Regions from separate parts of the Homo sapiens genome. Here regions 1 and 3 are each reported to be linked to region 2. Evidence: microRNA targets listed by miRTarBase, many of them from high-throughput screens and not tested one by one. Region 2 holds a microRNA gene; each other region holds the end of a gene's coding sequence.
The links. The annotated mature microRNA hsa-miR-3120-3p reads CACAGCAAGUGUAGACAGGCA and lies in region 2 at 3,284-3,304, opposite strand. An mRNA with a match to its seed (bases 2 to 7 or 8) in the 3' UTR can be bound and repressed. Matches are read on the target gene's strand: a 7mer-m8 pairs with bases 2 to 8, a 7mer-A1 pairs with bases 2 to 7 and ends in A, and an 8mer does both.

Region 1: the mRNA of TRERF1 is a reported target of hsa-miR-3120-3p. Seed matches in the 3' UTR shown: 7mer-m8 at 3,732-3,738, 8mer at 3,062-3,069 and 7mer-m8 at 2,809-2,815.
Region 3: the mRNA of KRTAP5-4 is a reported target of hsa-miR-3120-3p. Seed matches in the 3' UTR shown: 7mer-A1 at 969-975 and 7mer-A1 at 1,257-1,263.

The regions. Positions count from the first base shown.
Region 1 is chr6:42,224,264-42,229,324 of GRCh38, forward strand. It overlaps TRERF1 (transcriptional regulating factor 1), which reads right to left. Exons shown (of 18, transcript NM_001395490.1): 18 at 668-4,406. The coding sequence ends at 4,082. It overlaps LOC105375061 (a long non-coding RNA gene), which reads left to right and starts at 476. Exons shown (of 4, transcript XR_001744122.2): 1 at 476-596. RefSeq lists an enhancer at 244-323.
Region 2 is chr1:172,137,088-172,142,161 of GRCh38, reverse strand. It overlaps MIR3120 (microRNA 3120), which reads right to left and starts at 3,354; the gene lies at 3,274-3,354. All of the region lies in intron 14 of DNM3 (dynamin 3), which reads right to left. It overlaps DNM3OS (DNM3 opposite strand/antisense RNA), which reads left to right. Exons shown (of 4, transcript NR_103486.1): 3 at 1-26; 4 at 1,566-5,074. It overlaps MIR214 (microRNA 214), which reads left to right and starts at 3,255; the gene lies at 3,255-3,364.
Region 3 is chr11:1,617,210-1,622,270 of GRCh38, reverse strand. KRTAP5-4 (keratin associated protein 5-4) reads left to right here and starts at 133. Exons shown (of 1, transcript NM_001347674.1): 1 at 133-1,313. The coding sequence starts at 178. The coding sequence ends at 864. RefSeq lists an enhancer at 1,890-3,089.

The DNA of each region.
Region 1 (5,061 bases), not on the chromosome of region 2:
GAACCCAGGAGTGGAGGCTTCAGTGAGCTGAGATCATGCCACTGCACTCCAGGCTGGGGAACAAAGCAAGGCTCTGTCTCAAAAAAAAAAAAGTAAACATACTTACTCAAATTTGAAAATGCAGGTTTAAAATGCAAATAAATCGGGGTGGACTTAGAGGAGCTGACCCGTGAGAATTGCTTGAACCCAGGAGTGGAGGCTTCAGTGAGCCAAGATCGTGCCACTGCACTCCAGGCTGGGGAACAAAGCAAGACTGTCAAAAAAAAAAAAGTAAACTTACTTACTCAAATTTGGAAATTCAGATTTAAAATGCAAATAAATCGGGGTGGACTTAAGACTTTGTGGAGGATTTAGTGTAAGACACCTGTATGTCACAGTGTGCTCCCTTGAATCACAGTTTGAGTCATAAGGTTTATGACTCAGTTTGAGTTTATGACACAGTTTGAGTCATAAGGTTTACGAACCCAAGTGGTTCATCCACTGCTTGAATAGCAGAAATGTATGTCCTGGTCTTCGGAGTCGGGGGACACTTTAATAATGATCATTAAATTTGATCAGCCGACTTAAACTTGTTGTCTACGGAAACCAATTAACAGGTAAACTAGCATTTATCCAGCATTGAGAAGTCATAGCAATGGCTAGAAAGAAGAAATATTTAAGCCAAACGAAACGCAAAAGATTAATATTTTATTTTCAGAGCAGCTGATGCAATATTGAATCAGGTTTTCACAAATAAATATGACAGTGTCTGTTTGGTTACATCTCCATTTGATGAATGCCCATCTATAGGAACTGTAATAACTTTCTGAGAGGCTAATGATTAGAATGTGTTAAATAAAATTTCCCTGGTTCCCTTTTTGAAGAAGCATTGTGATAATTAAGAAAAAAAAAAAGCTTATCACTTGGAGGGGAAACAACCTAGAATGCCCCAGTTTCCTTTTTTTTTCTTTTTTTTTTTTTTAAGGAATGCACCTTTTTAGGACAAGTCTATAAAACATCTTTATTTATTTGTTACATATGATGTTTAAATATAACTTTGCTTTCAAGCTTCAAACTTTTTTTAAACCCCTGGTAAAATAAGACTTTTGGTTCACCTTAACAAAAACTGACCTAGGAAGAAACATTTTTAGCAAAATGTTATTATAAAATTCACTAGAAAATACGGTCCTCTTGTTGCCAAAATGTTACATAAAATCCTTATTAAAAATACACACGTTACAAAAGAAAAATTATGAATATGCTATACATAGTGCTTTAATATGGACCAAGGGACTTGCATTCCGGGAAAATACAGTTAAGCACACTAGATATTATGATGTCAACTTATAATAGTGCAAACCTGAATAAATTACATCCTGATATGGAAGGCATGCAATTCATCTGCTGAGAATAGAACATAACGAAGCCAGAACAGGAAGCAATCACAACCACTATTTAAAAATGTTTTCCTTTTTATTACATTAATTTTTTTCAAAAATACTTTTCTTTACAATAGAACTCCTAGAAAATATTTACAACCTTCCTCTAATAAAATATAACAGCAGTTAAATATATTTGAAAATAAGATGGGTTTTTCCATAAAATATATCTGTTAACTTTTTATATACAAGCTTTCTCAAAGAGGTCTAAATTCACTAATGAAAAACCATCTGATAGTAAACAGTAACCGAGTTGAGACATTAACCATTAGGAAGAAAAGATCTTTGGGGTGGGGTAAGGGGAGAAGCTAAAACACAACACATACATGCAGGCAGAATTATTTCAGAAAAAAAAATAAGTGCAACATTGTACTAGGAAGTCCATTCTTTAAGTTGATAGTCAAGAAATACTAATTCAGGAATTTGAACTGTCTCGTTAAGGAGGAGTTCTTTGGTTGTTTCAAGTCAAAAATCCTTATGCTATACTGCATGGAAAATTATAAGTAAGCTGTGCATTCTATTTTTGCCATGGCAACTGAGTTTATTTTTTAATGTTTAAAACTGGAACAGCTGGGCAAATCTCTAAACAGAGGCAATACATTTGCTTTATAAACACTTTTCTGGATGTTTGCTCCTTTGATAGATAAGCTTCCATAGACCCAATAGCAGCACCCTTCTAGGCTTACCCTCAGACACTAAGTGGAGGGCAGTAGTCCCTGGGAGAGACGATCAGCCAAGGATATGACAGCTGTAATGGTTCGGCCACAAAGTTGATGCACACTGCCCAGGCAGTTCCTGACTCACAACTGCTTGGATAAAACAGGATAGCATAACCTTTCTGAAATGGCAGCAAATGAAACTTTTTTCCCCCTCTAAACAAAAGATGTAGGAAAACGCCAAGACCTCTTTGAAAATAGAATGATGGAAAAGAATTTTATTTTTTTTTCTGTCCATGGCTTTCCTGAAGTTCAGAGACCACTGTCTGTGTGGGGCTGCTGTGGCTCACAGCCAGTTCCCCCCCATGAGTGTGTGCTAAATGCTTTTGCAGAGTCAAAGACGTCAGGTCCTACTCTCATGCTTCTGCTGATATTCTCTCTCATGTCAAGCTATGAATGTTGTCAGCAAAGTGGCCCAGCGTGATAGGCACACCTACGTGGAGCTGGGAACCAGCATACCTGGGGTGGGCGATGCCTGAAAACACCGGCCCAGGAAATCACGCTGCATTAACTCCAAAAGGGGAGTTGCATGAAGCAGGATCCTCTCTGTACTGGCGCTGTGTCCCAGCCTGACTTTTGCCCTAACGGTGGGATGGGTCAGTCTGACTCAGCTCAGAAGCCTGGGGCTAAATGGCATTTTTGAAGGATTACAGGTTTATTACCTTCAAGTACAAACAGCAACCCTGCTGACAGGGACAGGAGGAAGCAGAGCAAAGTCATGGAGGTTGGAGAAGTCTAGAAGTGCTTTGGTAAGTGACTTGTGATGAATACATTCATTGTTTGAATGCAAACATTATAGCTAAGGTGTATCTGAAGCCATTTTTGTTGGCCTTCAATGCTATTTGTCTTGTATTTGCTATCGTATGTGTTAGAAAACTATTTCTTATAGCTAACATCAAGGTAAACTTCAGTCCAGCGGATGTGAATTACAGCAAAATCCCAGTGAATGCGGTTTCACAGTACTTCCAAGTGGCACAAAGTAATTTCAGAACTCCACTAATCATTAACAGCGTTGCAAAAAAGAATAGGCTTTTCTGATTTGTTTTTTGGGCAATAGAACACTTTCTGGCATTCTAGGTACTTCAATATGTGTCCTTCAATCACCCTGAAGTGAAAGCAGTCCTGGCAACTTAATATTTGCCTCCAGATGGGTCTCTAGTCAGTTCATGCTGAAACACAGCTCTGCCACCCACAACTTGGAGCTGACCAGCCCCCAGGGAACATGGAAGAGGACAGGACACACCTGTTCTAGAAAACCAGGTCCTCAGTAAACACTGCTGGGAATGAAAGCCTAAAATTATACAGTACTCCATTCCTGTGAACGGGCCAAAGGATGACGGGCAACACAGGGGAAACCTGTTTTCACATTTGGTCATCTCCTCACATGTCGTGTGAGCTGGAGGAGAGCCGTGTAACACGAGGGCTTGCTTTGCCCCTGGAAAGCTGCCCCTAGCATAGTATCTCCAGGCAAAGATGCCATGCTCACTGCAAACTATGGAATGAGGTCAGAACAGAATCAAAGTAACGCTTGATGGGAAAAGTTGGCCCCAAGACCCCAGTACTAAGAGGGTCGCCTGCGTCTCACACACACACACTCACAGCAAGCTTTGGGATAAAAGGCAACCGGGATGGTTGACATCTGAATGCAATGGAACATGAAGGTCAGCTTCAGTCCCTACTGGGAATGATTTCATGAGAAGGTAGCCCAGATGAAACACCTCTTAAAGATAGTTGTGCCAATTATTTATTCCCCCAACCCCCCACAAAAACAAATTTTTTTAAATAAAAGGAAAAGAAATAGGATTTTTTTTTCTAAACCTGAATAAAATGACCACTTTTAAAACAGGTAGTTTAAAAGGGTTACAAAACAAGCAGGCAGTCCAGGTTTCCTGATTAATGAAGATGGAGGCCGTGGGTTTTCACTGTCTCTAAGTGACACACAGGGCTTTATAGTTCTGCGTCACCCTGAAGCAAGACTGAATCTTGATCATCCAAGAGAAGATCGGTGTCCACAACTTCAGCCTCTTCCATGACACCTCCCAACTGCTGGACGACGTCGTCGTCGAGGATGTCCACATCCTTGATGGGTTTGATCAGACTCAGCTGGTCCAGGGGCAGCAGCCCCGGCGCCCCCACGGGCCCCGTAGTCCTCTCAATCGTGGCTGCCATCTCAGCTGCAAAAGCCGCCTTCTGAGCCTTTTGCCTCTGTTGTTCCTCCTGCTGCCTGTGAGTTTTCATGTGTGCATTTCGGCTTTTGATCTTGAAGAAGACTCTAAAAATAAAGAAAGAGAGGTGTGTAGAATTTAGAAGGAGATCTGAGTTCTTGGAAATCCAGGTGTCCTACGGGGAATGGGGGTGTGTGGTCTGACAAAGTCCCTGGCTGCTCGGCTTCTAGGACCTCCTTCCCCTGTGACCTGTCACCTCTCTTCCTTCCTCTCCAAGCATTACAAGGAAAGGGATGGGGACAGAACACACCTACTGTGCCTCAGGCTTCCTTCCTGTGACAATGGAGGAGGAATTCTCAAAGGCCTCCTGTCCACCTGGAGTCTGGAGCACAGGCTCTTTCTCCTCTTTCAGCCTCCCCCTTCTCCTCATCACTGACCATGCCCTCTCCACTGGAGAATCTTCTAAATCATGCTAACAAGCCCTGATGGTCCCCATCATGAAACAACCCACCATCTGCCTCTGGCCTCTGTCCCTGTTCCTCCACAGTTGAAAGTTGTTGGTTTTGTTGTTGTTGTTGTTGTTGTTTTAAATAGAGACAGGGTGTCTCTCTATTGCCCAGGCTGGAGTGCACTGGTGTGATCACAGCTCACCATAACCTTGAACTCCTGGGCTCAAGTGATCCTCCCACCTGAGCCTCTCGATTAGCTAGGACTACAGGTACATACCACCATGCCTGGCTAATTTTTAAATATTTTGTAGAG
Region 2 (5,074 bases):
TAAAACTACCCCTGGATGTAATAAGTGTAAGTATTAAAATTAAACATTATATGTGGTCATGAAGAGAAAATTGTTTCAGGGTCTGTCCAAACTACACTTCATAGAAATTTCATAATTATTTTTCATTTTAGCATGTGAATGATTGATAAATTGGACTAGGTACTGGGTTAAAAGGACTTTTCCACCATCTAAGAGAAAGGAAGTTCAGAGCCTTAGCTTCAACACCACAATTTCTTAACTGGAAAAGGATCAATCTAAAACGGTGGACTTAAATTTTCAAACTCATTTTTCTTTTAGGCCACAGATCTCAAAATCAAAGAAAGACTGTTTACTATAGGACAAAGTTTCACACTGATCACTTTCCTGTAGTTAGTCAATAGGCTTAATATCCTTCCTGCTTGGCATTCGGGCTTTCGGCCCAGATAATATGTTTATGTTTGTAAAAGACCAAAATATACTATCTACCCCCACCTCTCGCCTACAGACCACCCATGTATTTCACTCTGTGGGAAACAGTTTAGGCATAAAAATCCTAACGAAAGAATTCTCCCCACTTTTTTGGTTGAAGTCTTAAGCTGTTATAAGATATAAAAAGTACAACTTGGTAATGTGAAAAAATTCACTCATCCACAAGCATCCATGCTCGGTAAAGAGACGCCAAAGCTTTCACTTACTCTGTAAGGGATCTGCTCTTTATAAACAATGCACTTTACTCTGCTCTAAGGAGAATAGCCCACCCATCACAATAACGTCAAAATAATAACTAAGAGACCATCACTCAGAAATCCTGGCTTAAAATAACTAGAAGGTCAGGCTTTAACCTGAGACAGGAAATTCCTGAGTTAAGATAGAAACTTTCTTACTTCAAATCCCTTCTTACTTTCATGTTCTGTAAATTAAGTAGAAATAAATATTTACTCATTTTCAAAGGTCTCTTACAAATAATTTTTATCAGTTTTAATAGTTAGAGATAACGAAGTAAATTAGGAAAAATAATTAAATCTTCATTTTGAATTTTTTGACTTAGCGTGACAGCCAGTTTCCTGGAGTTGCTTTGGTTTAATTTCACTACAGAAGACTTAGAAGACAATTCTTTTCTTACATTTTTTTCCTTAAGAAATAAAAGACAAAAAGAAAACAAGGTGTAATAACCACACTAAAAATTACATGGTATGATAATAATACAAATAGCTCTTTTATGTTTTAGCTAGTATTTTAAGTAATAATAAACTAATATTCAACCTATAATTTGGGAGATTAAAAAAAGGTCAATATGGTTTTCAGTCTTTCATCTTTTTAACAAGTTTAGGGGCAGGTTCAACATAACAATGAAGTGTGCATATGTCACATAGTTACTGTAAGTGTGTTTTAAAAATCTATCAGAAACATAAATTGTCCAAAAGCCTTATGAATAGAACAATTGTTTTCAGCAAGATTTTTTTTTTCCCCTGAAAAACTGTTGTGGTTTTTCTGGCTCAAAAAATTTTTATATCTTGCCTTAATAAAACTGTTTTATATTAAAGCATAACATACAAACTCACAAATATTTCTTTTTATTTTTTCAGGTTGCATGCATCATTCCTTTAATTGAGCAGAGTTAACTGGATCAAATTATTTATGGGAGAGAGAGGAAAAGTTATAAAGAATTATAGTAATTTTTAATTTCCACCAATATACTCTTTGTAAGTGAATCACTCTATAATTACTTTCTGTTGCACTGAATGCAGCAACAATAACACAATAGTATTTTAAGGCACTGGTTTTTGGCATACTCTAACCTTGTAATTATTTAAATAACAGCCAAGTTTACTCATGTTTTTGATTCTGTCAAGAAAAAAAAAAAGTTCCTTTACTCGAAAGTGATGGCCGAAACAGAATCGGAAATTTGTTTTCTTGAAATTACATAAATACACAGAAAATGGCACTTATTAGCTTTTGTTAAAACATTACCTTACCTAATCACTGCATAAAAGTCCAGATTTGTAGAAAATTGTAATTTTCTCAGTATCTAAAACTATTTTGCTTTCCATTAAGTTTCTATTTGCTATTTTCTCAGAATTTTACAATTAAAGATAAATCACAAACTGTTTGTTTTTCTTAAAGTTCTTTGAGAAAATGTCTAATTATACAATCCTTGGACAATACTGTGTTTTTTTGGTGCTGTGTTTTTTAAGAAGTCCTACTTACTGGAATTTTGACTATTTGGATATTTTTGTTTTTAAAAGGGGAGGGGAATTTGCTTAATACTTCTAAAGATGTGAATTGATAATTGATATTAAAATAGAATTACTCTCAACTCACCAGAATTAAATTTTATATCTGCATATTTAACACTATTAGCTCATATAAATTATAAGAAAAATTTTCAAAGGATCTGGTTTTAATTTTTTGGATATGAAATGAATTTGCCTTTTCTGCCTTTTCTTAAGTACTATTTTGTAACTATATTGCACTAACTATATCCAAAACACATTCTGAGCATCACTGTGAGTAACAGCCTTCCAGTTTGTACCCTTTTGATTCACAGCATGGCCCTATAGTTAATTAAGAGGTGGATAACTTAAGCTCACAACTGCCTTTAATTTGATTTCACATCCACAGTTATAAACTTTGCATTTAAAAGGAAAATGAGACATTTAAATAGGTTCCTGTTGTTTCACATATAATTGGTAAAAACATATTCCCTTGTAGGATCCTATTATCAGAGCATCAAATACCAAAGTCAGCAACTTGGGTTGCCAAATAAATTAGGCTCATTAATTATTTTGAAAAGGGCTGCTGTTTCCATGTAAATGATAATTTTCTTTTTCATGGACAAGGTTATGGTACTTATCTACTAAAAGAAACATGCATAAACATAGTTTTTATCTTTAACTTCAGTATTAAAATATGCAGTTTTTTGCAAAGAGGAAAAACATCTGGTTCAATTACGCTGAACTCTGACTACATGTGGGCCAGTAATAATATGAATTGGACTTAAGAATAAACCTTGTGTTTAATCTCTTTTTTTCCTTAAAATTTTAATGTGAGTTTTCTGTTACGCAAATTATCCATGTTAGCACATTTGGAACAAATGTATAAATGTACTTTCTGAATAAAGTCAAAAGTCTAACTTGTTTTTAGTTCCATAATGTTTTAATGTTTAATTATATTGTGTATTTTTCTCCCTTTCCCCTTACTCTCCAAAATCACCAAATCTGGAAAACAGGCTGATTGTATCTGTCTATGAGCAAAGGAAACCTGAAGGAACCAAGGGCCTGGCTGGACAGAGTTGTCATGTGTCTGCCTGTCTACACTTGCTGTGCAGAACATCCGCTCACCTGTACAGCAGGCACAGACAGGCAGTCACATGACAACCCAGCCTGAATGACAACCAGCCATTGAAAGAAAGCAGCCCTCACACCATAGCATCTACACCAAGAGCTACAACCAAAATGAGGGGCTCGGGGGCCTGGGGTTTTAATCTGTTGGTTTAATACTTAACTCATGTATTATTTTATTTTGATTCAAGTATTAAAACCCACCAAAAGTAAAGTGAGTGGTGCCTATGAAATATAATAAAACCCATTTCTGAAAATGTTCCTGTGCATTCTATAGTTCTCTTTTCCTAATTGTTGTCAGCAAATCACTACCCTTGACCTTTATTGTACACAGCTTTGCAGCACCCTATATTGATATAAAAACTCAATATAACAAAACAATATAACTTCAGTCTGATGCTTAACAAAGAATAAATTATTCTAAGAATTCTTGTCCATAAACTAAGTATGGTTTTCTATGTCATGATTTTTTTTTTTTTTTTTTTTTTTTGGAAGGGGATAGGGTGGAAAGACAGAGAAAAGAAAAGGGAGAAAAAGAGTATTCCAAAGGATCAAGTGCTTTGAGTTAACTCTGCCAGTCTGGGTTAACTCTGCCAGTCTGGGTCTGGGCAAAACACAGTGAAAAGACTACTATTTCCAACTAGTGTTCAACTATATTAAAATAATAGTTTCTCCTCTTTTGACATATGGAAAGTTGAAATTTTTGATACTTCCACGCGTCATGGTATACATAAATTTATGACTGCGTCATTCTTTAATTAAGAAGGTGCTTATGCTACAGTTCTAGGAGTAGAATTTACAAGGCCAACACATTCACTTGCAACCTATGCTTCCATCACTATAAACTTTCAAGATCTTGAGATGTTCAGGCAATTCATTTATCTTCAGAAGCATAAGGAAAGTGGTTAATGCACTTGAAATGTATATTTTGACACATCTTTTGAGAAAATATCCAAACTTCAGTTTATGCACTGTTAACTGGAGTGAAATGATAAGGGATGGCTTTTGTCTATGAATACTTTAAATACTTAAGGGTAAAAGGTGGGAAGATGGATAAAATTAGAAATGTGTCAACTTTTATTTAGTTCATTAACATGTTTTAGCTTCAGTATTTGAAATTAATTTTCATCTTTCTTAGATTCTGGTCAAGCTTAAAAAATGTAACACAAGGCTACTCAAAACTTTTTTCACATTTAACAATTAAACACTTTATGTATGTATTCTTAACTAAAGCAAACTATTTTTCATTCAGCTATTTTATTTTTAAAATGAAAGTCTCAGTCTTAAAGCTAAGATCCCAGTGAGTTTCAAATTTTCTGACAATGATATTTTAACCAAACCTGACATTATAGTTTCTTTAATTAAAAAACTGAATGATGGGGCAAAACTACAAAGCACAAATATGATTAAAGTTAAATTTCTCTCATTTAAACAATCTTGTCTTATGGCAATATGTCATCTGCTAAAATTCATCTCTGCTTCTGCAAGATACATTGCACGATGCAGATTTTTGCCTTAAATAAAAGTCCCATTACTAGCAAATAAAGTCCTAAACAATACTTACAAAATGTAGAATATAAACAGGAAGACAATATAAAAATTACTCACAGAATATCGACATCGTTCTACCCAATCTTAAATGCCTTGTACCACCTGTTGCAAATGCTGCCTATGAGAGTTCACGTATGGAATTATTCTACTGGACCCTGCAAGGCTCAGGAGAGTGCTTGACAGCTCCCAGAATGAGACAATGA
Region 3 (5,061 bases), not on the chromosome of region 2:
CCGAAGTCCAGCAAACAAATAATCACATACCCAGGAAGTGCTGGGAATGATGGAGTGACCAAGGTCTCAGAGCAACCCTACCCAGGGATATAAGGGGGTCCAGGCTCAGGGGGCTCCACACCTGCACCTCCATCTCATCTGCTCCTCTACCTGCTCCACCCTCAATCCACCAGAACCATGGGCTGCTGTGGCTGCTCTGGAGGCTGTGGCTCCGGCTGTGGGGGCTGTGGCTCCGGCTGTGGGGGCTGTGGCTCTGGCTGTGGGGGCTGTGGCTCCGGCTGTGGGGGCTGTGGCTCCGGCTGTGGGGGCTGTGGCTCCAGCTGCTGTGTGCCCATCTGCTGCTGCAAACCTGTGTGCTGCTGTGTGCCAGCCTGTTCCTGCTCCAGCTGTGGCTCCTGTGGGGGCTCCAAGGGGGGCTATGGCTCTTGTGGGGGTTCCAAGGGGGGCTGTGTCTCCTGTGGGGGTTCCAAGGGGGGCTGTGGCTCCTGTGGGGGCTCCAAGGGGGGCTGTGGCTCCTGTGGGGGTTCCAAGGGGGGCTGTGGCTCCTGTGGGGGCTCCAAAGGAGGCTGTGGCTCTTGTGGCTGCTCCCAGTGCAGCTGCTGTAAGCCCTGCTGCTTCTCTTCAGGCTGTGGGTCATCCTGCTGCCAGTCCAGCTGCTGTAAGCCCTGCTGCTCCTCCTCAGGTTGTGGGTCATCCTGCTGCCAGTCCAGCTGCTGCAAGCCCTACTGCTGCCAGTCCAGCTGCTGTAAGCCCTGCTGCTCCTCCTCAGGTTGTGGGTCATCCTGCTGCCAGTCCAGTTGCTGCAATCCCTGCTGCTCCCAGTCTAGTTGCTGTGTCCCTGTGTGCTGCCAGTGTAAGATCTGAGGCTCTGGACTCAGGCCTCATGTGAGTCCTGCTAATCCTGTCTTCCAAAGCTGTGACCTGTCCTTCATTGTTGAGCCCCAAATCATTGCTCAGGGTCCATTCCCTGCTGTAGAACGATGCCATATCTGGCTGCCTTTTCCTAAGAAGAGTCCACCCTAATTAATGTCCATTGTCTCTCCTAACAAATTCTCTCCCCAAGTCAACTGCAATTGCAGCTGAATCACCCCTCACCCACTAGCCTCGCCTTTGCTCATCTTTTCAGAGGCCTGAGCTCCTGAACCCACTTGCAGTCCTGTCTTTTCCAGCTGGAGCAGCTGGGCATAAGCGTCCCACCTGCAACAAGGTGGGCGTTTAAGAGGCTTCCTTGGAGTGGCTTTGCATGTCCAACACTCTGCTGTATCTTTTTTTTTTTTTTTTTTTTTTTGAGATGGAGTCTCGCACTGTCACCCAGGCTGGAGTGCAGTGGCACCATCTCGGCTCACTGCAAGCTCCGCCTCCCGGGTTCACTCCATTCTCCTGCCTCAGCCTCCCCAGTAGCTGGGACTACAGGTGCCCGCCACCACGCCCGGCTAATTTTTTTTTTATTATTATTAGTAGAGACAGGGTTTCACCATGTTAACCAGGATCACACTGCTTTATCTTAAACAGAAAGTTGCAAACTAATAAAAATACCATGCCGACAAACTGAAACACATATCTTGCTGATTTCTCTGTTGTTCGGTGTCATTACTATGGCTATGGCTATTGTTTTCTTATTCTTGTTATATTTCGGACTCCGTGAGTCTGATGGTGATGTTGCTGGAAGGTGCTAGGATGGGGCTGGCTGTCTCCGCTGCCTCTCGTCCGTCTCAAAAAAAGAAAAAAAAAAAGGTAAGAGTCAAACCTGGAGAAACTCTGTATAGACAGACTTGAAACAATCTGAACACCAATTTCTTAACTGGACTGATACACATCAAATATGTTTAAACTAGGAGTGAGTAATCATACGCACACACATACATACACAAATAATAATAGAGATACTATGCAAACTGTAAAATTTAGTTGCCTTTAGAGGATTCTAGGAATCAAGTCATTATTTCGAAGATGACTATATAAAGGAAAATAATCAGGCACTTATTCTATCTCTGATAGAGAAACTCTATCTTACGGTAACCAAAAAATTAGAGGAAGTATTCCAGTTTATAAATAAAGAAGAAATCGTAGAATTAGAAGCTAACCATTTTGTAACCCCTAATGAAATAATGGGGCTATCAAATTTACTGCATGCAGCCAAATCAGTGCTTAGAGAAAAATTTATAGCCTTAAATGCATATGTTGGAGTAAAAAAAAAAAAAAAGCTTAAGCTCATTTAGGCAAAAACCTATCTATAGGACTGGCAGCATTGCCACACAGAGCCCAGAATGGGGTGGTAATTAGGGCTATTTGTAGGCATCCTGGTTCTCCTCTCCTTCTGGGAACAGGTTGGATGGCAGGTGGTAGGGTGGCCCTTCCATGAGCCCTCTCTAAGTCAGGTGTGGCCATGTGATTTGCTTGCGTCAGTGGGAAGAAGTTTGAAGCACCTGCTGCAGTCTTCTGCATTCTCCGTTTCTTCTCCTACCATGACCACCAACATTCCAAGCAGTGGCTGCTGCTTCCGACTGAGTCCCAGAGTGACGAAGCACAGAGCAGAGTCACCAGCTGACGTGCAGTGGCCTGGGATATGAACAGGAAGTAAGCCTGTGTCGTGTGAAGTCACTGAAACGTGGGGGTGGCGCGTGTGAGCAGCGTAATTGGTCTATCCTGGTTGACCCAGAAACCTACCAGAACAAAAACATAGCATTGTGGGCCTGGTTTATTGGTCAGAGGGTGGGTGGAAAGGAAAGTTATTAGAGGTGAGAAAGGTAGTTATTATGTGTTTGGTAAGACTGTCCCAGATCGTGTATCCCTGAGGGAAGAGTTCAGAAAACACAATGCCACTCCCACGTGGGTCGTTGTGGCTGCATTTATCAAAGCATTACAAGAACAGGGTGAGCTCGAAAGAACCGGCTGATTTGCCAGCCAGGAGGAAAGTTCTAGAAAGCCTGGAGAAACCTGGGGAGCTACAGAGTTCTCAGTTCTGCCTGGTAAATGGTAAGACTTAGAAGGCTTTTGAGCAGCAAAGAACAATTGAAGCTCAAATGAAAGGAATTTTTTTTTTTTCTTTTTTTTATTTGAGACGGAGTCTCACTCTGTTGCCCAGGCTGGAGTGTAGTGGCACGATCTCGGCTCACTGCAAGCTCTGCCTCCCAGGTTCACACCATTCTCCTACCTCAGCCTCCCAAGTAGCTGGGACTACAGGCGCCCACCACCACGACTGGCTAATTTTTTTTTTCTGTATTTTTAGTAGAGATGAGGTTTCACCGTGTTAGCCAGGATGGTCTCGATCTTCTGACCTCATGATCCGCCTGCCTCAGCCTCCCAAAGTCCTGGGATTACAGGCATGAGCCACCGTGCTCGGCTAAAAGGAACCCTTTTTAAGGGTACACTTTGATGAGGTTCCATGAGAACAGACCACACTGAGGTAGGGAGTTGGTAGCTGCCTCCAGCCTGGCCAGTGGGGCAGGAGGGGCTGCTGTGGGGTCAGTGGGTCCGGAAGAAGACGCCGGAAACTTCTCCCCCCATGGCTCACTTGGCGTTCTCTTTGCTTGGCCTGTGGCTCCTGTGGGTAAATTCATGTCCTGCTGTGTGATGAAGAGGTTTCTGCAGGGAAGAGGGGGAGGTGTTTGGCCCAGGCAGGACCCAGTGACCTGCAGATCAAAGATGGCCTCACTACCACGGTAATGGGCACCAGAGAAGAGCCTGCCGCCAGCCATTCGTTGGAAACAGGCCCAACAGAACCAATGCTGTCTGTGCTTGTGGTGTGGGGGTAGAAGAGAAAGAGAAAGAAACCCAAAACCTTCCTTAATAATGAACAGATGTCACATGATTGTTAGCAAGATTTAAGACATAGTTGTAACTCTCCATGAAATCAACAAAGAGAAAATCACGTGTTGGACATTTTATGCATAATTTTTTGATAAAATCATAGGATTGCCTGCTGCAACATCCTTCATTTCACAGTTGGCCGTGACAGAATGACGCTGAAGGGAGTCGCGTAGCAAAAACAACTGAGCTCCTTCTCATCCTTCACGGACGCCTCTCTTTGAGGTCAACTCACCCCATTGGGAAGCCTCTATCTTGCCTCCTTGACCAGCTTCTCTTTCAGGGTGAACCGCCTGATCTTCACCGTGGTGGCCTTGCCTGGCTCCCAGCAGATGTTCTCCAATGTCACTTTCAGTGACATCACAGAATCCTACGTTTCTTTTCTTGCAAGCATTGCAATTTTACTTAAAATCTGCATCGTAAATATGACTGTGGAAAATGTATTTAAGAGAGCTGGTTCTGCAAAGACATGAAAGACATTTGGGAGGGGGTGTGTGGGAATAAGTGATATTGTTAAGTAAACGAGCTGCTTGAGTGGAGAACACTTTTGGAAGTGGTCAGCTTGGCCCCATCTGTGCTAAAAATACAAAAAAAGAAAAAATTAGCCAGATGTGGTGGTGGGCGCCTGTAGTCCCAGCTACTCGGGAGGCTGAGGCAGGAGAATGGTGTTAACCCAGGAGGCGGAGCTTGCAGTGAGCCGAGATGGTGCCACTGCACTCCAGCCTGGGTGACAGAGCAAGACTCTGTCTCAAAAAAAAAAGAAGTAGTCAGCTTGGGCTTGGCTCACTCCTGTAATCCCAGTACTTTGGGAGGTTAAGGAAGAAGGAACACTTTAGCTCAGGAGTTCAAGACCAACCTGGGTGACATAGCAAGACCCCGTCTCTGCAGAAAAATGAAAGAATTAGCTGGGCATGGTGGTGCACACCTGCAGTCCCAGCTAATGGGGAGGCTAAGGTGGAAGAATCTCTTGAGCCTGGGAGGTTGAGGCTACAGTGAGTTATGATTGCACTGCTACACTCCAGCCTGGGTGACAGAGTGAGACCCTGTCTCAAATAAATAAAAAATAAATAAATAAATGACATTGTCAGCTTGTTTACTTGTTTGTGATTATTTTCTTTTTTACCTTCCTCTTCTTGTTTTTAATAGAGATAGAGTCTCACTGTGTTGCCCAGGCTGGTCTCGAACTCCTGGGCTCAAGGGATCCTCCTGCCTCAGTCTCTCGAGTAGCTGGTACTACAGGCATGCACCACTGCC